Homo sapiens: one gene and its partners. The protein of the gene in region 2 purifies or fractionates together with the protein of the main gene of each other region. This does not show direct contact. Each region holds a gene or a part of one and is shown on either strand. Other genes may lie near its edges. The genes, in order: TTC39A, CARS1, SEC24D and MCCC2.

The links.
Region 1: the proteins of CARS1 (region 2) and TTC39A fractionate together in Homo sapiens (co-fractionation; one large-scale study listed by BioGRID). This does not show direct contact.
Region 3: the proteins of CARS1 (region 2) and SEC24D fractionate together in Homo sapiens (co-fractionation; one large-scale study listed by BioGRID). This does not show direct contact.
Region 4: the proteins of CARS1 (region 2) and MCCC2 fractionate together in Homo sapiens (co-fractionation; one large-scale study listed by BioGRID). This does not show direct contact.

The regions. Positions count from the first base shown.
Region 1 is NC_000001.11:51,301,895-51,308,173, forward strand, and holds part of TTC39A (tetratricopeptide repeat protein 39A), read right to left. Parts: intron 4,183-6,279; coding exon 4,083-4,182; intron 3,253-4,082; coding exon 3,187-3,252; intron 1,299-3,186; coding exon 1,190-1,298; intron 680-1,189; coding exon 612-679; intron 523-611; coding exon 463-522; intron 1-462.
Region 2 is NC_000011.10:2,998,639-3,003,915, forward strand, and holds the end of CARS1 (cysteine--tRNA ligase, cytoplasmic), read right to left. Parts: intron 3,963-5,277; coding exon 3,903-3,962; intron 3,537-3,902; coding exon of another isoform or gene 3,504-3,536; exon of another isoform or gene 3,416-3,503; coding exon 3,332-3,415; coding exon of another isoform or gene 3,324-3,331; exon of another isoform or gene 3,255-3,323; intron 2,611-3,254; coding exon 2,476-2,610; 3' UTR 2,291-2,475; downstream 1-2,290. UniProt on the Homo sapiens protein: Catalyzes the ATP-dependent ligation of cysteine to tRNA(Cys).
Region 3 is NC_000004.12:118,737,102-118,743,380, forward strand, and holds part of SEC24D (protein transport protein Sec24D), read right to left. Parts: intron 3,937-6,279; coding exon 3,840-3,936; intron 3,708-3,839; coding exon 3,562-3,707; intron 2,187-3,561; coding exon 2,048-2,186; intron 1,279-2,047; coding exon 1,160-1,278; intron 1-1,159. UniProt on the Homo sapiens protein: Component of the coat protein complex II (COPII) which promotes the formation of transport vesicles from the endoplasmic reticulum (ER).
Region 4 is NC_000005.10:71,653,252-71,658,963, reverse strand, and holds the end of MCCC2 (methylcrotonoyl-CoA carboxylase beta chain, mitochondrial isoform 1 precursor), read right to left. Parts: intron 2,222-5,712; coding exon 2,104-2,221; 3' UTR 258-2,103; downstream 1-257. UniProt on the Homo sapiens protein: Carboxyltransferase subunit of the 3-methylcrotonyl-CoA carboxylase, an enzyme that catalyzes the conversion of 3-methylcrotonyl-CoA to 3-methylglutaconyl-CoA, a critical step for leucine and isovaleric acid catabolism.

The DNA of each region.
Region 1 (6,279 bases), on a different chromosome or scaffold from region 2:
CCTCCAGTCCTGGTTTTACCTCCTAAGTCTTACATGACGTTGGGCTCAAATACAGCCCCCGCCTAGGACTCTGGTTTTTAGTAACAAAATGAAAGAGCAGGAGAGAGCTATAATGGAGGGGAGGTACCAGACTCCAGCCTAATCGTCATGCCCTAAACAGATGGGCTTTCCTAACCTCTGCCTCCCTCAAGCACCTCCCTCCACCTCCCTCCACTGCAATGCTGCAGTCCTATATCTCCCAGTCAAAATCCCAGGCACCACAAATGCCTCCTCCTCCCTTGTCTTCCCAGGCTGCTCTGCCAGAAGGGCCTCTCCTGCCCCTGCTCTCTGGTTGGTTCTCTCTTGGCCCCCCCCCCGCCCCCAGTCTATCCTGTCCCTGAGTATGTCACATGTGCCTGACTTCCTGCTGGTCTGGGAGACCCCGAGGGATCCCCAGCCCCGGCCCGGACCCCCATCACTCACTGCATCAATGTTGCCTTTAATGACTTCAATCCTCCCTGCAAAGAACAGGAAGATGGCACCCTGCAATGACACACATGTAAGTCCGTGTGGGTCCGTGGGGTCTGTGGGTGTTTGTGGGCTGGGGGTACCGGGCAGCACATGGGGCTCACCTTAGGGTACCGGTTCAGGTAGGGCTTCAAGAGCTTCTCGGCCTCCTCGATGTTGACGTTCCCAGTACCTGGAGGAGATGGTGGGGGAGACACAGAACATGTCACCACCCCTGGCTCCTGTGATCCTGCCAGCAACCCAGCAGGGGCTTCCCAGGGTCTCCCCCTCCCCCTCTGTGAAATCGAGATAATTCTCCCTGTCCCTAGGGTGACATGAGGATTAAATAAGGCAGGGCAGATATCGCCCCCAGCACTTCACAGGGCTCGATAACCAGGAGCCTGCATCCACCAAGGCTGTGCCCAGAACCATAAGGTGCTGTACACAGTGTCTTCACACCCTCTACAGGGTGGGCACAACCACCCCCATTTCACAGATGAGAAAACTGAGGCTGGAACCCAGTCACACTGTGAGGCAGTGGGCGTCAGCAGGCCAGTCCCCAGGACAGTGGATGTGGCTCTGTTTCTGGTTTCAGTACCCCTATCCCTAGCCACAGGGCATGAACAGGGTCTGTAGCCCCTCGTTCTCCTTCCCCCTTGGAGACGACCAAACCCCAGGGCCCCAGGTCCCCCTGTACACCTACCGAGCACGAAGGTGAGGAAGGTGTGGTAGCACAGCAGGAGCATGACACAGAGCACAGAGCGGAAGCTGTGCCCTGACGCTCCCTCCTCCAGCTGCAGCAGCCCATAGTCCTGAGGGGATGGGAGGGTGGGTGAGGCTCCCAGAGAGGGCAGGGGCCTGGGAGGCAGCTGGACAGCTGTGTGGGCAGTGCTGCCGGCACAGGGGCGGAAGAGCACTGGAACCCTGGGGGCCAGGTCAGCTGTGTGGCCCTGAGCAAGTGGCTGCCCCTCAGTGCCCCAGCACATTCCTGGGAGAAGGGGACACGGCTGCCAAGGCCAGGACAAAGGCTTGGCGGGTCTGAGGTGTCCCCCACCTTCTCCACAGCCCCTTCCCCAGCCTCCCTGTAGTCACGGGCTTGGCCGCCCTGCGATGGGTATTGAGGGCCCAAGGTCTGGTTGGGAGCAGGAGAGACACGGAGGTGGATGATCCCAGCCATGGGCTCAGGGCATAGGTGGGGCCTGGGAAGGCTTCCTGGGGGAGAAGCCTCCAGAGCCTGGCTGGGGAGGGGCTGGGGGCAGACCCCCCACCTTGTTTCCCTGCCTGCAGTCTCTGCCCCTCTGTCTGTCCTCCAGAGCATTCTTGTTCTTTCTAAAACACAAATCTGACCTGCCTCACTCCTGCCTCAAACCCTCCATGGCTCCCCTGCCTTCGAGATAAAGAGGAAGCCCAGGCTGGCACAGTAGGTCCCGCAACCCTCCTGGCCAGGCCACACTGCCTCACCTCTGGGTCCTCCCTTCATCCTGAAATCCTACTCATGACCCATGCGCTTTCTTAAGGAAACAAAACTGAAAGAGACCTTCACAGCCTCTAGCCAATGTTTTCCAAAGCTCGGGCAGCAGATAGCAGCTAAGATTTCAGGGGTCCATGGGCAGATGCCAGGAAACACTGAGTCACGGTGAGGGTTTTCCCTTCTGTTATCTTTCTATCCTTTGGTGGTGCCCAGGAGAAATCCCCAGTCCTTTGCTCGTGGGGTTTGAACTCTCTCACCCTAAGCCCGCTTTCTCAGAAAGAGGAAGCCTGGCTGAGCCTGGGCTACACAGTCTAGCTGGGCTTTCCAAAAGATGGCTGGGCCCTCGTGGTATTTATTTTTATGATTATGTTCTTATCATGCCAAATAATATGGAGGTTTGTGTAGAGATGTTTCCTTTAAATCAATTTCAGTAAAAGTCATGAGTCACTTTTGAGAAAAGTAATATATAAATTATAATAGAGAGGTCCGTGGGTGTGGCAAATATCAGTAAGGGCCAGTGCACGTTTGAGAAACATTTATCTGGTCCATTAACAAGGCCCTTATTTTACTAAAAAGAGGCTCAAAGAAGAGAGGGACTTGCTCAGAGTCACAGAGAAAAGGGGATGAGGCTGGACTGACCCAGAGCTCCTAACTTCCAGGCCAGTGCTCCTTCTACCACACTAGGCCTCCTCCACCAGAAAGCCCTCCCTGATCTGCTGCCTTCAACCTGGGGTTGGTACTCAGGTTCTTGCCCTCAGTAAAGTCTTTGGGTGCTTGAGTTCTCTGGTTCCTCCTCAAGGTCTGATGCCCAGTAGGGCTTCCCTCAGGCATCTGCTGGATGAAGTGGTAGCACCAGAAAATGGTCCTTGGGGGAAGGACTTACTCAAAGTCTTAAAGTGAGGCAGTATCTAGGGAGAGAGGGACCAGCCCCTGACACCTGTCAGGCTCAGAGAATGTGTGATCCTGGGCCACTGATGGAGCTGCCCTTCACACCCACACCCACCCAGAGCCTCTGCACCCTGGGAGGGCCAGGCAGGGATCACTAGCCCCATTTGTCCAGAGAGAAGACTGAGGCCCAGGGAGGTCTGGGCATTGTCCAGGGCCATACAATGAGAGGGGCTGAGCCAGGATGGGCTCCTAGGCCCTGTGGCCTGTCAGCCCCACCCTGTGCAGCCCAGCCCCAGTTCTGGGGCTGAGCAGGTCAGGGGTGCTAGGAGGCAGGTGGTTACCTTGTTTCCTGAAAACCCCACAAACTCCAACAGCCTCAGGATCCTAGTAGGAAGCATGGACAGTGTCTGCAAGAAAGGAGGCAATCAAGCCTGTGAAGGTACCCAGAGTGGGCAGGGGCCACCCCCACTGTCCCAAGTCTAGCTCTTTAACAGGCTTTACCTGGAGGGGAGAGGGCCACCCCTCTAACTTTGAAAGCCTCTAGCCAATGTTTTCCAAAGCTCGGGCAGTAGATGGCAGCTAAGATATCAGGGGTCCATGGGCAGGTGCCAGGAAGCCTAGCCAGGAAACCCCTGGCCACCTAGGTTCCTGAGGCTAAATCTTCCCTGGGAAGCTCCTCCTCCCTTGATCAGGCAGTTTTCCCAGCCTTCCTGCTCCCTCTGCCTGGAAGCCCCTCCCCAGCTGGGAAACTCCTAGGGATCCTTCAGGAGCCAGCACAGATGCTCACCCCCTCCCGTAGGAAACCTTCCCCCACTCCATGCAGGAACAAGACTTAGTTCTCTGTCCCCTCTAAGTCATCAGCTGGTTTCAGGACTGTCTCCTTCCCTGACACTGGTAAATGTTTAACCAGCAGCTCTCCAGGGCAGAGAAAGCCCTGATTTATTGTGTGTGCCAAGGTCGGGTGCTGTGAAGGTTCCACCATGGTGGATTTCAAGCTACTGGCCTGACTTGGGAAGAAATGCACCGATGGACTCTGGAGCTGGCTCCAGCGCCCACACCACCCCCACCCCAGCTGTGAGCCCCTGAAGGCTGGCCACATGTCTGGTCACCTCTGGATCCTGGTGCCCAGCACACAGCCAGGTGCAGGGGCACTTGGCAGTGACCACACATGAGTCAGGGACAGAAGGGGAGACTGAGCTCAAGCCAGGTGCTGTGGAAATGGAGGAGGAGCACTCACCAGGTTGAAGGCCCCTACACCAAGCTTCACTCCTCCTTCAAAGTGCGGGTGGTTCTCACCCTTGCAGTATTGTGAGGACTGAACAAGGCTGTCCAGCTCCCTGCAGAGAGATGCCAAGTCCTGTTTCAGCCACTGCTGGGGGTGGGGGGTAGGGGCTGGGACCCCTTCCAGCTGGGCCTCAGGTAAACTCCCTGGTGGTGGATTCATACAGTTCTGGTAATCCTGAGAGCTGGTATTTGAGGAATTTCGAACCCCATCTCCCACCATGATAACACACTCCTCACCCCCTGAATTTCAGCCGTATGGGCCCTGGCACACTCAGCCATGGGCAGCTTCTGGACATTTGTTCGTATTCCACATCCTATCTAAAAGAGGTTTTCTCAGCCTCCGCGCTACTGACATTTTGGGCTGGATAATTCTTTGTTGGTGGGGGTGGCAGGGGAGCTGTTCTGTGCATTGTAGGATGTTTAGCAGCATCCATGGCCCCTGAGCACCAGATGCCAGTAGCATCGTCTCCCTAGCTGGACATCCAGAATGTCTCCAGACACTGCCAAAAGTCTCACAGGGGGAAGTCACCCCTAGCTGAAAACCACTGGGCTAACCAAAACACCTCCTCCTTCAGGAAGTCTTCCTGGAGTCTCCTGGTTGGAATTCAACTCTATTTCTCCTGGTTACCAACTGCACAGAGCCCCTAGCCCAGCCACCTGGGGCAGGACAGAGGCTTTTAATGATGTGTCTGCCTCCTTCCTGGGCTGACAGCATTTTGAAGGCTTTCAATTAGCAAGCTTGAAGCTTCTCTGTGCCAGGCACTGGAAGACAGCAGGGACCAAAACCACCAAGCCATTGCCCCCACAGCATTCTCACTTTAAGGGACAGACCCCCCCCCCCCGCCCCCCGATTGAGTCACTATGAGGGTGATGACAGGCTCCAAGGAGAAGAGTCCTTGGGCCTGACTTAGTCTGGGGATAGGAAAGGCTTCCCTGAGGAGGTGACATTTGAGCTGAAATCTGGTACAGAAAGCCCGGTGCAGAAAGTGTTTCTGACAGAGAGAACAGCACGTCCAAAGGCCCTGAGGTCGGAACCACCTTGGCATATTTGAAGAACTGGGGGAAGGCCCAATGACCTAAGGCAGAGTGAAGTGGGAGATGTGGCAAGAAGGGCCAGGGTGACCTCCCAGGAAGAACTTGGCAATAACCCAGGACTTCTTTTAAGAGCAAGAGGAGCCTTGGGAGTTGGCAAGGGGTGGCCTGACAAGGTGTGTGCTTTGGTGACCTCGTTCTGGCAGCTGGTAGGGAGGCTGACGGGGCCAGAGCACTTGTCTGGTTTTTCTAGAAAAATTCTAGCATAGGCCTCCAAGGTAACATGATGTCCACATGCTATATGGTACATTATACCCTAGCAATACCTTGTAACAAGCTCACAATATCCCTGCAGGGAAGCAGCCACATTAAATGGGGAGATAAAGATGATAAATAGGCCAGGCGTGGTGGCTCACGCCTGTAATCCCAGCACTTTGGGAGGCCGAGGCAGGCAGATCACCTGAGGTCAGGAGTTCGAGACCAGCCTGGCCAATGTGGTGAAACCCCATCTCTACTAAAAATACAAAAAATTAGCCAGGTGGGGTGGCGTATGTCTGTGGTCCCAGCCACTCGGGAGGCTGAGGCAGAAGAATCGCTTGAATCTGGGAGGCAGAGGTTGCAATGAGCTGAGACTATGCCACTGCACTCCAGCCTGGGCGACAGAGCAAGACTCTGTCTCAAAAAAAAAAAAAAAAAAAAGACTTTTTTACTTTTCCTCTTTTTTTCATTTTGTTTTTACTGTGATAAATATACATATCATGAAATTTAACATCTTAACCAATTTTAAGTGTACAATTCAGTGGTATTAACTACATTTACATTATTATGCAACTATCCCCAATATCCATCGCCATGAATTCTTTTCCTCCTGTAAAAGTAAAACTTTATTCTCTGTCTTTTGGTCTACAGCTTCATATCTATCCTTAGCCCCCTTTGCCATGTTATTCCTCTATCTCTCCTGCCTGATGGAAAAAGCATGAAGTAAATTATCTGCCTTCTCTGTGGTGCATGTGGACTACTGAGCAGGTGTAGTAAGATTGCTGTCACTGTAAATTTATCATCACCAGCTTCAGCTGGGCTTCTCCGTACTGCCAGTCACTCTTGTGCTGTTTCCATAG
Region 2 (5,277 bases):
AAGCTCCCCTTTTGGGGCACAAGAGTGCCTGGGCTCAGCTACTCCTGCTGCTGCAGACCTGGAACTGGCCATTTCTCCAGGGGGTGGGATGGGGTTTAGAGCCCCAGATCGGGGCTGGGGCTGCTCAGTGCCACCAGGGCTGCCTTGCTTCTCCACCCTTCCCATCTACACAGTCAGGAAACAATCTACTTTTTAAAATCACAAGTTACTTCATATTGTTTTTTCTAATTCGTATTTAATAGTAAAGTGATTTTCCTTGACTTCTTTGATATTTTATCGTCTTACATTAAAAACTTGATTGCTAGGCTGGGCGCAGTGGCTCACACCTGTAATCCCAGCACTTTGGGAGGCTGAGGCGGGCGGATCACTTGAGGTCAGGAGTTCAAGACCAGCCTGGCCAATATGGTGAAACCCCATCTCTACTAAAAATACAAAAATTAGCTGGGCATGGTGGCGCGTGTCTGTGATCCCAACTACTTGGGAGGCTGAGGCAGAAGAATAGCTTGAACCCGGGAGGCGGAGGTTGCAGTGAGCTAAGATTGCTTCCCTGCACTCCAGCCTGGGTGTCAGTGATCTTATTTGTGTTGGCATACAGGGTTTGAAAATTATAATGCCAATGTTATTACTAACAACAAAACTATTGAATTGACTTTTCTGTACTTTCTTTGACCTTAGAAGATACCCCATTAAAGATGTGTAGCAAAAAATGGCCAATTCTCAGAAAGTTGAAGTTCTTTTCTTGAGGTTGCCAATTTGATTTATGTTTTTGTGCCAGATGGTACTTTCTGAAATAGCTGCAGTAGTATTTCCCATCCCTTCTGGAACCCAGTAATGCCCACCACAGGGTAGTGTCTATGCCTCCCCCTCCGCACGAACGTGGGTGGGCCTTGTGACGGCCTCCGCTAGGGAGGACGGTGGAAGTCAGGACATGACCTCCGAGGTTAGATCCTAAAAGGCCATATAGCTCCTGTCTCTCTCTCTCTCAGGACTCGCACCTTTGGAGCTATAGGCTGTTGCAACAGAAATCAGCCACCGTGAAGCCGCCAAGCTGGAGAGATCACACACAGGTCTCACAGAGGTAAAAGGTGCCCAAGCAGCCCTAGTGTGGGACCCAGGCACAAACTTAGAGATGACCCCATCTGCCTGCAACTGAAAACCAATCAACTGAGCCCAGTCAATCCAGAGCCATGAGTTATTAACATGATCATTGTTGTTTTCAGCCATGAAGTTTTGGGGTGATTTGTTAAGTGGCAACAGATAACTGGAACATGTTTGTTTTACTTTGTTTGGGGGACTTTTCTTTCTTGCTGGTTTAAATTTTTTTATATATAAAATACTGACAAGGTTCAAAGTCAGGCCTATCAATACCCAGAGACTGTCCTCATTGATTTATAACCTTAGTGCTCCCTGCATAATTGGGTGGGTGCTCTCAAGCTGTGCCAAGCACCCTGCTGATGCACAGACAGGCTGGTTCCAGCCTTTTGCTGTGTCACACACTACTGCAGTAAACAGCATGCGCATGCGGAGGGCAAGGACAAAGAATTGGCGCACCCACAACCCAACACTGCCACACTCCCCATGCTGAGGCTGCTGCCACCATCCACATGCACTGGATGGAGTGTCCCCCCCTGGATGTCCACAGCACCAATGACTGTCTTTTGTCCCGATGGATATGGCCTGGCACCAGCTTCCGCAGGCATGAAGCAGGCTGTGGTTTCTGCTTACGCCCTCCTCAGCCAAGGATGGGTAAGCACCTTCGCGTCTGGGTGGTGATTCTTAGTCCAGGTGAACCAGGTGTGGAGGCAGGGTGGCAAGGACAACACTGGGCACTGGGGACAAGAAGGCCCCTGCTGTGTTGAGACCACCCCCACAACTCACTCATTAGCCATGCAGATCCTGGACTTGCTGTCTCCAGCGGCAGTTCTGGGCAGCTCGCCAGGGGCCTGCCTGCTGAGCCACTCGCTGTGCTGCTGCCCAGTATGGAACGGCTCTAGGAAAACCTGCAGTGTGTTTATTCATCAGAACCCGAGGGCAGACTGAGCGGCCTTTGTCTAGGGCTCAGCAGGCTCTGCCAGTCTGAGCCTGTCTTTTTCCTACTCAAATACCTCCCAATGTGCCCACACACCAGAGATTAGCCGATAGCCATCAGCATGGGGGAGAAATTCCTCGGCCAGCTGAAGCAGCTCAACTGACCCAAGCACCTAAGTTGTGACCTGCTGACCAAGCGGCCCTGGCTGGCCACCAGGCCTCCTGCCAAGTGCTGAACATGCAGAACAAGACAGAGAGGGTCTCACTGTTGAGAAAAATTTATTATCAATGTCTCAGAGCCAACGACGACACGAACCTACATGAACACAACTCTTAATTTAGGACCCAAGGGTGACTGTAAACATGATAGGAGCGCTGGGACATTGTCACTGAGGCAGACAGCAGCCACTAGTCCACAATGGTTTAAAAAGTCAGTCCTGTGCCCCCTCACTGGAAGCTTCCATTCTGGGCCATCTGCAGATATTCCTTGTAGAGCTTCTCCTGAGCCTCGAAGAGCTTCTTCAGCTTCTTGGCTTGCCCTTTGCTGAGCTCTTTGCCCTCCATGTCATGTGTGGGCAGACCCTGAAAACCCAGAGCACAGCGGCTATTGGTCTCCTCTGCACCTGGGTAACCCCAACTCCCCTTTCTTTGCCCTCCCGTCTCAAAGTGTCTATCTCCCTGATGCAGCCATGTCCTCTTGCTTGGACATTCAGTCACCACACTGCTCTGGAGCCAGCACACTCATCTGGCAGTGCTGGCTCCAGCAGCTAAGAATGGGAGAGGGGCGACCAGAGTCTGGGGGTGCTTCCTGCCTAAGGTGAGGGGCACTGTGCCCCTCAGAGCCTACCCATGGCTGAGTTCTGACACAGCTGGCCCAAAGGTACATAGCAAACACATCCAAATGCCAGCAGGGAGGGGCCTAGAGGTTTGGAGGCAGTGGCTGTGAATCGCTATGACAAAGGAAGAAACTGGGGGTAGGAGGCCTATCTGCGCCACGGCACTTCAGCCAGCTTGTGAGGGCCTGGGTGGATCTTGGCCCGGGGCCACAACTCCCAGGGCTAGGGACCAGAGCTCACCACACCAGTGGAGGGGGCCCTGGCACGGGCTTGCCTAGCTGCCTGGGCTGTGGAAGGAGCTCAGTAGTTGGGCCAGGAGGCCCTGGACCTAAAGCGGGTGTCAGATTTGATTCCAAATTTTCTACAGACAGAAAATCTGCTTGTCCAAGGTTGAAAATTCCTGTCCTCCCACTTTAATGTGGTCTGATCAAGTTCTGAATAGAAGAGAAGGATGCTTACATGCTTACATTTTCATCAAACTTGGAGTATTTGTCGGTTTCTGACAAGAACATCTCACTGGGGGGAATCTTCATCTTGGCCAGCTTTGCTGCCTAGAACACGCAACACGGCACAGTCACTGCCCCCGAGCAGCACCTGGGGCTCCGCACTGTGAACGACATCTGCTCATACCTCCAGCCCTCAACTTGCTTCCAAGCCCTCAGATTCAGAGTGCTATGAAAGATGGGAAGGGGAAAGCCAAGGTGGAGGGAACATACAAGGAATTTAAAATTAAACCAGATGTTATTTCTACAGGAATAGTGGAAAGCTTACTAGAAAACCTAATAGTAGTAAGTCTATAAACGCTGTCTTGGAGCTTGTGACCACATGGCACAGCCTTCCCCTTGGCCAGGCCTTCCCTGCACCCCATGTGAGAAGGGCCTGGCAGGCCTTGGGTGGTGGAGGCAGAAAGCGGAGCTCCTTCTGTGAGGGTCTGCAGGGGCCTGGCTAAGGTCCACGGAGGCACAGAGAGCCACAGGGCATGGGGTCAGGGTGCACTCCTGCCCAGTAGAGCCCTCACCCCCAAACAAAATGCATTACTTCTTGTTCCTGTTTCCTCCGGGCCGCCTCCTCTTTCTTCTTCCTCTTCTCCTCTTCAACCTGGAGGGTCAATACAGAGCCAGATGAGACAGGGCTGCCTCAGGCTGCTGGGTCTCTCGGAGTGAGAGGTCTAGCCAAACAAGCCCCTCTCCTAGGGCCTGGCATGGAGGGCTGAACTCTGACCAGGCCCTCCCCACTGTGGGGAGACAAGCCCATGTGCCGGGCAGCACACCGACCCTCTTCCATTCCCTTTGGGGATCCTCAGCGGCACCCCTGGGTGCCTGGCCCTGCCCTAGATGCAAAGGTATGCAGCAGGCAGACAAACAGAACCAATGCTAAAAGATCCAGGCACCACTAACATGAAGAAATGGACCAGCATGGTGAGCCTGGCCCAAGGAGAGAGGATCTGTAAGGCAATGACCAGGACAGCACTGTGAGGGTTATCCTGAGTGGGTCTTGGGGTACCTGGGAAGGAGCAAGAGCGCCAGGGCAGGATGGGGATGGTGGGCGGAGGGCAGCCTTGGGGGCTAGGTGAGGAGACCAGAGCCCACTCCAACCAGCAGGCAGCACCCGGGCAGGGGCGAGGACAGTCTGATGCTGCAGGGAGAGCTTATTAGTGGAGCCAGCAGGCTGGGTGCCGGTGAGGGAAGCCCTCGGTTGCTTTGGGAGGTTCTGGCCTGAGCCATTGCACGAACAGACATGCCCTCCACTGACGGAAAAGGAGCAAGTTTGGGGAGTTGAAAATCACATTTTCACCTTTCCTTTGGACAGCCTAGGTTTCAGATGCTTCCCAGCCCAGTGGAGCTATCAGGTAGGCACGCCCTCCATGGCAGGAAGGAGGAACAAGTTTGGGGAGTTGAAAATCACATTTACTTTGGACAGCCTAGATATCAGAGGCTTCCTGGCCCAGTGGAGCTATCAGGTAGGCAGCTGGGCAAACTGTTTTTGGGCCACCGGCTACAAGATAGATGGTGGAGAAGCCGCAGGACCAGATAAGGTCTCCTGGGGAGGCGCCACACACAGAGCTAGGGAAAAGAAACCAGGAAGGCACAAAGGTCTCAGAGACTCAGGATGGGGCTGGGGCCAACAGGATCGAGCTCTTTCGAGATAGATGGAGGGAGAGCAGGGCTGGCCGAGGGAAAGGGGCTGAGGTGGGGGAGGAGCTGGGCACTGAGCTTGGAGGAACCAGAGACACAGTGCTCAGGATTTCTGCTTTTTCCCTTTAAAAGTTAGTATGTGTTTATGTGCTGGTGGGAATGGTACAGGGAGAGGCAGGACCCCTCCCCCATGGTGCCTCGGGCCTGGGGATGCCTTCTTGCAGCAGCTTGGTGAGGTAAGAGTCCCTTGGTTGGGAAACAGGAGCTACTAGAAGTCA
Region 3 (6,279 bases), on a different chromosome or scaffold from region 2:
TAAGACAAATAGTAAAATGAGGTAAATGTTTAAAGTGCTCATGATTGGACTGCATTCTGGCTAGATTCCAGGTGTACCTGGTGGGCTTTGTGTAACCTGAACTAGCATGCTATGAAATAGTACTGATATTTGAGTTGACTAAAATGGCAAATCTTCTGAATAATAAAGAAGACTGAATACTCATATAGATTCAGGAGTTGCTTATATGATTATCAACAGAAGAGATAAAAGAATGGATGACTAATTTAATCACTTTGGACAGCATGGAAAGGAACTTTTATGAAAAATCCATCTAGTAAGTGTGTTTGTTTTCTTTCTTTGCCCAGATTAAGAATTTGGACCCAAAATTTATCTGCATTATCTTTCCTGCTGAGGATTTACTTTTAGGTGGGGCTTCAGATGTCCTCTCAGCACTCACTTTTGACAATGAATGAACTAGAAAGTTTTCCCATCTATTGCTATTTTAGTTGGAATTCTATATTCACATATTTGATACACAGCTATAAAAAATGCCATCTAACTTTTATTGACATAGAGAAGAATGTGAACAAGAGAGCAAATGCAAAATAAATGTGGACTTGAGGTTCTGCTTTTCCTTTTATAGGAGAGAGACTAAATGAGGTTTATTCAAAGAATCTTCTAAAATTTCAAATTACTAGATGATGGAGAGAGTCAATTCTTTGAAAACTCTTCACACCTATTAATAACTTTTAAATGTAAAGAATTCCTGTATTTATATTTATAAATTATATTTGTTTATAAAATGTTATTACTGCCATCAGCTCATGTCAACTTTGTTAATATGCCTAAAATGTATTTAAGCATACACATTTCATAACAAAATACCCATCTCTGGATACAAAACAGAATCCTGTTTATATTAGGACACTTCTTACATATAACATTCTTTTGTTTATACATACCGTAGTGACTGTCAACTGAATATGCACATCCATTTTTTTTGTTCACATTTTTAAATGTTGGCTATAAAAAAAAAAACCACAGCCCCCCCAAATTGCATTCTTAATCTTCTCAGCTACACTGTTTACTGTAACAGCATCTAAGTGCCTGCAACATCATAAGCCTTCTATAGCTATGTGCTGAAGAAATGAGTAGTCGTTTGTAACACTTTAACATCTATGTGCAATAGGTAGCTCACCTGGCTTGCTGCAGAAGGACTTGCACAATTCTTCCGGTAACATGCCAACATATGGGCAGTCTGATTAACTAGAATTTCCCGGATGACCTTCAAAGGCTGGTGGAGAACTGCTTTAAAAGCTACATCACAAAACAATGAAAAGGACATGAGTTTTAGCTCAGACACTGATCTCTTCAAATAATCAAACAAAAAAGAACAAGTTGCTATTATCTTCAGACCACCCAGCAAGAATAATAGCATTTAAATCTGTTCAAGTCATTTGCTAATGGTCTCCTCTTGACTAAATATGATGATCTAACTAATGGAGAACATTGGCCTACCTACAGCAAAAGGTTATATTGGCCAGATTTACCTTCAGAATATTAGAATTGTACACACAGAAAAAAAGACAGGCCAATTTGTCATTTTTTGATGTCCTGAATTCTTACGGGCTGGATTGCTACCTTTTCCAAACTTTAGTGTAGAATTTCTCAAGGAAAGCCAAAGAAAATTCCACCTTGGGCCCATTCTATTTCATAGTTATCATGGTATGGATAAGCAAGTTTAGTCTAACATTAGAGATCGTCTCTGTCCATTAACCCAATGTGTCAGAGGGCATGATCATGTACCATAATAAGGGTCTAAGCATCATATTCCTAAATTTCAACTCAGACTGCCACCCCAGAAGTTAACTTTAAGTAAGTCTGTATAGCCAGACCCTGAACTGAGTTACCTCACTTATTAATTTAGAGTTAGGAATGCTGACTATTCTCTCTCAGCCTTTGCTTTTATTAGTTCTGAATTTACCCACCATAAGGTTGCAAAACTACAGTGCTTTTTAGCTACTGACAAATCTTGACTGAATTACTAAGCAAGGTTTACTGAACCTCAGGATTGGCAAAGTGTTACCTGACTTGGCAAAGAAGTTGATAAGAGCATCTGTCTCACAGCTCTTATAAAGATCAGCTAGCTGAGAGCTGCAGTTTAAGCCAAGATTGTGAATCCGAAGTCTTCTTTGACCACTGATTGTCGTGTAAAGCACAGCACACTGTAGAAGCAACATTGAGGTCACATGTTTTTCTGATTAACATATCCACCCAAGCTAACTTGATCTTACTTGCATTTACAAAACACTGTGTACAGATAGATAAAAGACCTCTAACTATTTTTCCACAGTTTTTTTTCTATTATTGTTAAAGAATGAACAACAGGAAATATGGGAGAATAATGACCCATTCATTTGCTGGGTTTCAATGTAGCACTTCACTGGTTTAAATTGTTGAGTGATTCACATGTAAATATCTATTTCACATTTCTACAACTAGTCTGCATTTTTCATAGCTCATGTTTTATTACCAGGGATCCAGGGGCAGAAACAATACCTTCATGTGCTCAGAGCCCTACTCAAGGCTCACTTTCTTAAAAACATACAACTAGCTTTCACAATGGACTTAGGTCTTATGCTGATGATATACATTTGAAGAATGCATAGATAGAAGCATTTCACCAAATATATGTGATTAAAAAATAAACTTTAGTTAAAAGTTCTTCTTCAACCTAATGCCAGCCTCTCTTCATCCTTTAAAGATGATGCCAATGTTTGGAAACTATGACCATGTATATCTAGTGGTCATAGTTTTTCTTGTTTTAATTCAGTCTCTATGGCTTCTAGTTAGTTTCACTTTAAAGAAAGCCAAATCCTATTCCACTTGCTTAACATCGTATTACGGGCTGAACTGTGGCTCCTCAAATGTCCTAACCCCCTAGTACCTAAGTATTTGGAGATGAGGTATTTAAAGAGGTAAATTAATTAAAATGAGTTCATTAGAGTGCACCCTAATTCACTATGACTGGTGTCCTTATAAGAGGAAAAACTTTGGATATAGGCATGTAACAGAGGGAAGATGATGTGAAGACACAGGGAGAAGAAAACCATCTACAAACCAAGGACAGGGGCCTGGAACAGATCCTTCCCTCTAGGCCCTCAGAAACCTTGATCTTGGAATTCCAGCCTCCAGAACTGTGAGAAAATAAATTTCTGTTGTTTAAGCTGCTTATTCTGTAGTGTTTGTTATAGCAGCCCTAGCAAATTAATATTCATATGGTAGATGTGAATAGGTGCTGAAGCCTAACAGAAGTGAATACCGTTGGAAGTCAGTTTGCTGATGCCTGTGATACTTACCACAAATTTGCTGGACTTGCATGCAATGACACATAATTGTCACTTCATATAAGTAGCAAATATGAATGAGTATGGAGAAACCTCCCAACTGAGTGTTCTAATCTACTGACTTTTGACTTTGGAGAAAGAGTTGAATTTTTTTATGAAGAGACTAACACATTTGATGGTATTTCAGTCTCCCCACTGATCATTGTCGGCAACAAACTAAAATAACGAAAGGTGGGAATACACTTTCAATCACCTGGATTAAGGCTCCACTGTCTTCACTGAGTTTGTCATCGTGCTTGAACTCCACGGTCACTGCCTTGTCACAATCGATGGCAGCCATTTCTACATCGGTGGTGTTGTTCATCAAGATTCCACCAAAGAAATCAGTGGCTCTGAAACCTAAAGATAAGGGAAAAAGGGAAATTTTGCTTGTCTTTATTCTACTGTTATTTTCTTTGTTGGCCTGTTATTAATTTGAAAAAGAAACAATTATTCAAGAGAGACCCGAAGAATTGTATAAATGATAATTACCTGTGCTGGTACGAACCCTCATAATAGCATCAAAGCCTATTTTCTTTTCAATATCATTTCTGAGGTCGTTCAAAAATTGTTGTCTATCCAAGTGCATCTAAAAAATAAAAGTCTAATCAATGTCCACCAGATGGCAGTAAAATACTTAAAATAACGTTCTCATTTTAATCCTGAGTTATAATAATTATTTTTAAAATCCCGATTTAGCATATTTTTTTATTATATATTATGCTTCTTTGGTTAAAGAAAATATAGCATTTTTGGACAGTGTTTCTTAACTTTTGAAACTAAAATCTCATCTATTATTTTCTTTCATTTTAACACTTGGATGAGAAAATCGGTTATTAATTGCAAATGGGAAAATTAAGAGAGCATAAGTGATCCACTCAGTGGCTTAGGGTTAGAGACAAGGTTAAGACCCAATGTATAATACCCGTTTAATGAGGCTAGGGAAAGACCTTGCAATTGGGGCTTTTTAAGTCTGACCACATTCAGAGCTTTGTGAAGCTATGTCAGGGAAAGTAGAAACCCCTTCTCCTAGCCCTGTTAACTACTCTACGATCACCGTATTTCTGAAAACTGTCCACATTCCACAACTAAGCAACATTTATATAATATGCACATGTGCACAATACTGAGCTCAGAGGTCACCCAAGAGAGGAAACAAACTAGCTGAGCTTCTAAAGCTTCTCATCTGTCAGTGAAACTCTTTAGGAAATTCTCACTACTACTTGACACATAGGAGAGACACTGACGCACGCATCTCATCCCTTCCCCCCAGTCCCAAACACGAAGGGAATGAAGGAGGAAAGGAAAGAGGGAGATCATAGACACAATCTTTACAATAATCCCTTTAGTTGCTTACATACAACTGGGTGGTGCCTGCATAGTTCTTGACCATCATTTTTATCTTACAATGTTATTGAATGGAAAAGACTATTAAAATTTGTATTGTTGAAGATAAGAAAGAAATGCTACGGCAGGATTCAGTTTTGCAACAACTGGAGTAAACAAACAACTGAATGGCAGCATAGGCAACATTAACACTCTTTTATTATAAAATATTTTACTGCCTGTTTACATCTTACTGGCTTTTCCTCTGCTGCATTATAACATTTCTTTTTTAGTAACATTGAAAGAATCAGTAATAATTATGGATACACTGAGGTACAAGTAAATATCCTTTTATATCAGAAATGACATGGGGTTGGCAAGTAACTCAAAAACTTAAATAGAAAAAAAAAAGTAATAAGCCTGGATGATTACACCACAGAGCACCCCCTGCCTACACATCACTTGGTAGGCTGCTCTTTGAAGCCAAGTCACTACCATGTAGATGATCACACCAGTACATAGCAAAGGACCTAGCAAGAACCCCAGCACAATTCACATATGCCAGGAATGGAAGATGATAAAGTCCTTTTTGGAAAAGTGGGGGGGGGAAAGCTTCTGATGAAATTTATCCCCCTAACTGGAAAAGGAGCTAAAATTGATTAGCATGGTAGGCTTCATGTACCTCAATACCCAGAATGTGGGTAGAATCAGTAAGGGTCAGAATTCTGTATGATTATTAAAAGTTTATTTTCTAGAGTGTATCTGAAAAAACATACTTTTATCCAGAAGTCTTAGAAAGAGTTGTTAAAGCTTTTTCAATTTTATTTCATTTACAATCTTTGGTCTTATCAAGTCCCTTAGTTTATAAAGAAATATGTAACTAGTCTCTATTCATAATTTTATTGATGATTAATAAAAACAGATGATGACTAACATTTGTCATTTATGTTGGAGAATACACCTTCCCAGTCCATGCCTCCACGCCTGCCCAGGCACACACATTAGAGGTACACCCCTGACCCCTTCTCCTTAGGTGATGGGGAGTGACTCATCTGATTAATAAGTTTGGGAAAAGGAACTGGGTGGGCACAGCCCAGCCTCTTCTGGGTCCTCTCCATAGGAAGGCAGCTTGCCTGCAGGAGGCACATATTTTCTGTCCCTCAATACAGTGTTTTTTTCAAGGCACAGGGGTCCACAGGAGAAACTCAGATCGTGCCCACTCTGTGCCGGGGCGCATAAGTTTGTGAAATTCAGGGGTGAATCAGCAAGCCCACTTGCCTGCAGACTCAGGCCCATTATAGTGCTGACATTTTGATTGTCTCTTGAATATCTCTCTCAATCAGGCTTGGAAAAGAGAAGTGTAATGAATTGATCCCTAAAATCCCAATAATTTAAAACAAATATGCAGTCACTTTTAAAAACATTATCTTAAGTATATTTTACATAAAATATATTTTTCTCCATTATGAAAGCTCACATTGATATTTGACTCTGAGGATGAATGAGCTCATTCTATCACCAAACACTTAGGAAGTATGGAATTGCCGAACCATAAATATATATGGTTCCTATATATATATATACACACACACACACACACACACAG
Region 4 (5,712 bases), on a different chromosome or scaffold from region 2:
TCCTTGACTTGTTAATGGTTCCTACCAAAGGAATATTACCTAGTCTTTATATAGAAAATCATTTTGACATAGATGTGCATTTTCATTAAAATTTTAATATTACTATTTTAATATACTTAATGTATTGCTTCTGAAAATGTAACCTACCACTGAATTTGATCATCTATCTATATTCTCCCCACAAAAACTAAATTGACTTCCTGGTACACATTGAACATCACACACAAATGTTTAAAATACTAAATATCACACACAAATGTTTGAAATATTGACTTTATTAGGAAAACATTTGATAGTTCTATTCGGTCATATAATCAATCACCTAATTTTAAAACTATGTGGCCAGAGGACATCAATTACAATATGGATTTTTCATTCATTCAACGAATATTTGAGCACCTACAAGTGCCAGACATTGGAGGTACAGGGTAAACAGGAGGATCCTTGCTCTCACGGAGCTTACATTCTAGCAGGAGGACAATATTAATGTTTATAGGAAAATGATGAGTTTATGACAAAGGAAGTAGATAGTGTTTTACAAGAGCATAGAGTAGGGAAGCTAATCCAGCACAGGGAGGTCACAGAGACATCCCTAAGGAAGTGGAGTTTAAACTGAGAGAAGCAAGTGCTTAAACTGAAGGATGTGTTGAAGAAGAAGGGAGAGTAGAACAATTTGGGCAGAGGGAACCTTATAGACCCTAAGGTGGGAAGGTTCAAAGAACTGAAAGAGAGCTAGAACAGCTGGAGCCGTTCTCCGGTGTAAAGAGGAGTCAAAGAGATAAGATTAAAGATGTGAAGATTAAGATCTTGGTGGCATTCAGGGATTGGCACTTCTACAAGAAATCACTGAAGGGAGTAATCTGACATTACTTTTCACTTCAGGATGGCCATTCTAACTCCAGGGGGTAGACTGGACTAGGTAAGACTGGAGGCAGGTAGACCTCTTCTAAGGCCTGCGATAGTGAAAGACAAAAATAAGTGGGGAAATTCAGGGGATAGTGAAAATCAGTAGGACTTAATGAGCAAGCCAGAGGTTCCTCCACAACAACCAGTACAGATGTCCAGTAGACCTACTGGATATGCAGGCCTGCAGCTCAGGGGAGAGCTGGGTTAAGAACCGTCAAGGCAGTAATCATCTGCATTTAGATGGCGAGTGAAGCCATGACAGGGGCTGAAATGGCCCAGCAAGAATAAATCAAACCATGAGAAACACATACATTTAAGAATAAGGAGATGTGGTCAGGCGCGGTGGCTCACACCTGTAATCCCAGCACTTTGGGAGGCCGAGGCGGGTGGATCACTTGAGGTCAGTAGTTTGAGACCAGCCTGGGCAACCTAGTGAAATCCCGTCTCTGCTAAAAATACAGAACTTAGCTGGGTGTGGTGGTGCGTGCCTATAGTCCCAGCTGCTTGGGAGGCTGAGGCACAAGAATCGCTTGAACCCGGGAGGTGGAAGCTGCAGTGAGCCGAGATCACACCACCGCACTCCAGCCTGGGCAACAGAGAAACACCCTGTCTCAAAAAAAAAATAATAATAAGGAGATGTCATGGGCTCGGGGGAGGGGGAAATGGGGAGCGCTGTTGTTTGAATGGTATAGTTTCAGTTTGGGACTGAGAACAAATTCTGGAGATGAATGGTGGTGATGGCTGCACAGCAGTGTGAGGGCACTTTATGCCACTGAAGTAACAGATGCCTTTCAAAAATAAGCCCGCTAAAATATCACCAAGCATAACCAGCAAAACAATCATTTCAGTGAAAATACAACTTTATATTAATCATCTCAATAATACAGATTACAGAACTGAGTTTACAGATTACAGAACTTTTCATACTTTGTGGGTCAGAAAGGATAACCGTAAATTACTGTCTCCGCTTTATGGGTGGTAAAACTGAGCCACAGAGAAATTTCTCTAAGAAAATTTAAAAGGAATTGATGTTCATTAAATAAATATCCTCACTGATTTTTTTAAGGTAGAAAAGTACAATGCACAGTGTTAAAAAAATTACTGTAACAGCCTCATGTTCGAGAAGTCTAAAATTTTAAGGCTACTACATGTGTTAATTTTCAGTACATGTCCAACAGAAAACATCCTTTATTCCAGTTACATCCTGAAGATACCGAAGTCAGTCTTCTCTATTGGTGCGTTGAGGGCTGCACTAAAACTGAGACCCAAGACCAGTCTGGTGTCTGCTGGATCAATGATCCCATCATCCCATACCCTGACAAAAGAACAAAAAAAGAGTTATGAATTTACCACCAAACTACCATTTATACACTCTCCATGTGCAGAAATGCCAAGGAAGTTTTCCTTCAGGTAATATATGGATCTACTGATTAGCATCCATGTACCATAATCTCACAACAGAAACTACGTTCAAGACAGAGGGGGAAAACGTGGAAAAAAATGATATGACCTTCATCCCAGGCCACCACAGAATGTCATGTCAGGCTTAAGGCTTAAGGAACTACTTTTATAAGAGATCTCAAAGTAACCCCTAATTTGACAATACGTTTACTTATTTCAGGAAAAATTTTCCTATTCCTTTTCTTCCCACACAAATATATAAGCCAAGTTGGTGTATTCTGTCATTAATATGCAGAACCACATATACCCAGGTAATAACCTCAAACTTTACTGGAAAATGTATATTCCCCAACCCCCATCCAAACTCTTAAGAAACTATGAAAATTATTGAATAGGCTTCAGTACATTTTATCTTATTTATTATTATTATTATTTTTGAGATGGAGTCTCGCTCTGTCACCCAGGCTGGAGTGCAGTGCAGTGGCACGATCTCAGTTCACTGCAATCTCCGCCCTCTGGGTTCAAGCAATTCTCCTGCCTCAGCCTCCCTAGCAGCTGGTATTACAGGAGTGCGCTACCACACTTGGCTAATTTTTGTATTTGTAGAAGAGACGGGGTTTCGCCATGTTGGCCAGGCCAGTTTTGAACTCCTGACCTCAGGTGATCCGCCCACCTCAGCCTCCCAAAGTGCTGCGATTACAGGCGTGAGCCACCACACCCGGCCAGCTTCAGTACATTTTATTAATAAAATAGATACCTTCAAATGTAGGTCTTTATTTTTTGCTACAATAGGAAAAACAATAACTTTAAACTGCTTGCAGAAGAAACTTTTAAGTAGAAATTTTAGTTTCCTTCTCATTGACAACCTCAAATGTATAACGAAAAATGACTGAGAAATATTACTTTTTAAAGGTTATTAGTAGGTGGCAGTTTGCTTTTTTTATATAAACTCCCTTCGGTATCTGAACCTGGCATCAACTATTAAACCATTCTTACATTGACAGACATGAATCAAACCTTTGCTCATAAAACATTCATAATAGGGACCCTAAAGTATCAACACCCAATAAAAAGAAAGCCACTCTTGTCATCTGCAACCAGGTGAATTGATTACACTCCCTCTGAAGCCTGCAGCACAGCAAGCATGGTGATGAAGGGGCTGCTTAATAATGTTCATTAAAAAGACTGCCCCAGGTAAGAGGCACTAATGAAATGCCGGATAAAAGTTTGATTATAAAAACAACTGAGCAGAAGCAAATTGGCACGCTACATATGTAACCTATTAGGATTAAGGAAAACATTGTAGGTTTCAGTAACTGATAATAACAAGCTCTGTCTCTGAAAAGACAGATCTAGCCATGTTCAAACCTAAGCAGGCCAGGGAATTTTACTGTGAAGCTGAGATTTACTAAACCCAAGGAAGGTACCATAAACTGGCTTGGAAATCCTTTCAGCTTTGAAAGAAAGCTGCTGTCTCCATGCCACCAGCTGTTTCAACAGAAGGGTTAAACATCTACAGATCTGGCCAGGTGCAGTGGCTCATGCCTGTAATCCCAGTACTTTGGGAAGCCGAGGCGGGTGGATCACCTGAGGTTGGGAGTTCGAGACAAGCCTGACCAACATGGAGAAACCCCATCTCTATTAAAAATACAAAATTAGCCAGGCGTGGTGGCACACGCCTGTAATCCCAGCTACTCGGGAGGCTGAGGCAGGAGAATCCCTTGAACCCAGGAGGCGGAAGTTGCAGTGAGCCGAGATCATGCCATTGCACTCCAGCCTGGGCAACAAGAAACTCTGTCTCAAAAAAAAAAAAAAAAAATCTACAGATCCACAGAAAACTTTACTGTCTGTTAACATTTATTTCCAAAGATAAGTCTCTCTGGGCCATTTACTCTTCTGCCTTGAATGTAATCCATTAAAAAATAATAATAATGTTAGTATGAAAATAATAAAAGATGCAATCTTTCTCAAGAGATGATTTATCTTAGCCAGGGCTGAAAAACAAGCTAACAGCTCACACAAAATACACAATTTTTCAAACTTTAATATTTCAGCTGTCCCTGTGTATTTCAGTCAAAATCTTATGTGGAAAAAAAAAACTATAGAAAAGCTTAACAATATATATTTTATATTTCATCTCAAACCTCTTATACGGCTTTCTATTGCTTCTTTCCATTTACTGGCTACTATATGTCTGTTTACACGATGATAAAATCAGGAACATGTTTAGCTCTCAAAGACTATAAAATATTTTGTTCTTAATTAAATGAATCAAACCACCACAATAAAATATACCTGTAAATTTGTTTGTAAAAATATATATTCAGCAAAAAACCTTTAAAAATTCCCAAATATTGGCCAGCCACGATTACAGGTGGCTCACGCCTGTAATCCAAGCACTTTGGGAGGCCGAGGCAGGATCACTTGAGCTCAGGCATTCAAGACCAGCCTGGCCAACATGGTGAAACCCCATCTCTACAAAAAATACAAAAAAATTAGCCAGGTGTGGTGGCACATGTCTGTAGTCCCAGCTTTGGAGGCCGACGCAAGAGGATTGCTTGAGTCCGGGAGGCAGAGATTGCAGTGAGCTGAGATCACGTCACTGCACTCCAAACTGGGCAACAGAGTGAGACTCTGTCTTTAAAGAAAACAAAAACAAAAACACATACACACACCCAAATGGTATTATTTATCTCCTCAAACTAATTATGTTCTTGAAAATCAGTATGTTTTGTCTTTGTATCCACCAAGGAACCATTCAAATGATTGTAATGGACTCTAACTTTTGCTTTTTTTTTTTTTTTTTGAGATAGGGCCTTGTTCTGTCACCCAGGTTGGAGCACAGTGGCATGATCTCGGCTCACTGCAGCCTTGACCTCCCAGGTTCAACTGATCTGCTTGCCTCAGCCTTCTGAGTAGCTGGGACTACAGGTGCACACCATCACGCCTGGCTAATTTTTGTATATTTTTTGTAGAGACTGGGTCTCACCATGTTGCCCCGCTAGTTTCGAACTCCTGGGCTCAAGCAATCTGCCCGCCCTGGCCTCTCAAAATGCTGGGATTATAAGTGTGAGCCACTGTGCCTGGCCTGATTTTCTTTTCTCTCCCCTCTCCTCTCCAGTTTGCCTTCGCCAGCATAAATTACAACATAAGCTAATTTTACAAGATGCAGAAAGAGTTACTTTCTTTTTTCCATCTGCCCAAGGGATGAAAGGAAGACATGAAGCTTAGATTAGTCTTCGGAATGCAGAACACTAAAGTTGTTGAAGAAAGATGTGAAAGCAGGCACCAGCAGGTCTTCAGCTGGGACAGGCATGATAATTTATTACCTCATTAAGTGGTGTAAGAAAAAAACCGAGCCAACAGCGGCAATGGTCTGTGAGGTAATTATTTGGCGCCGACACA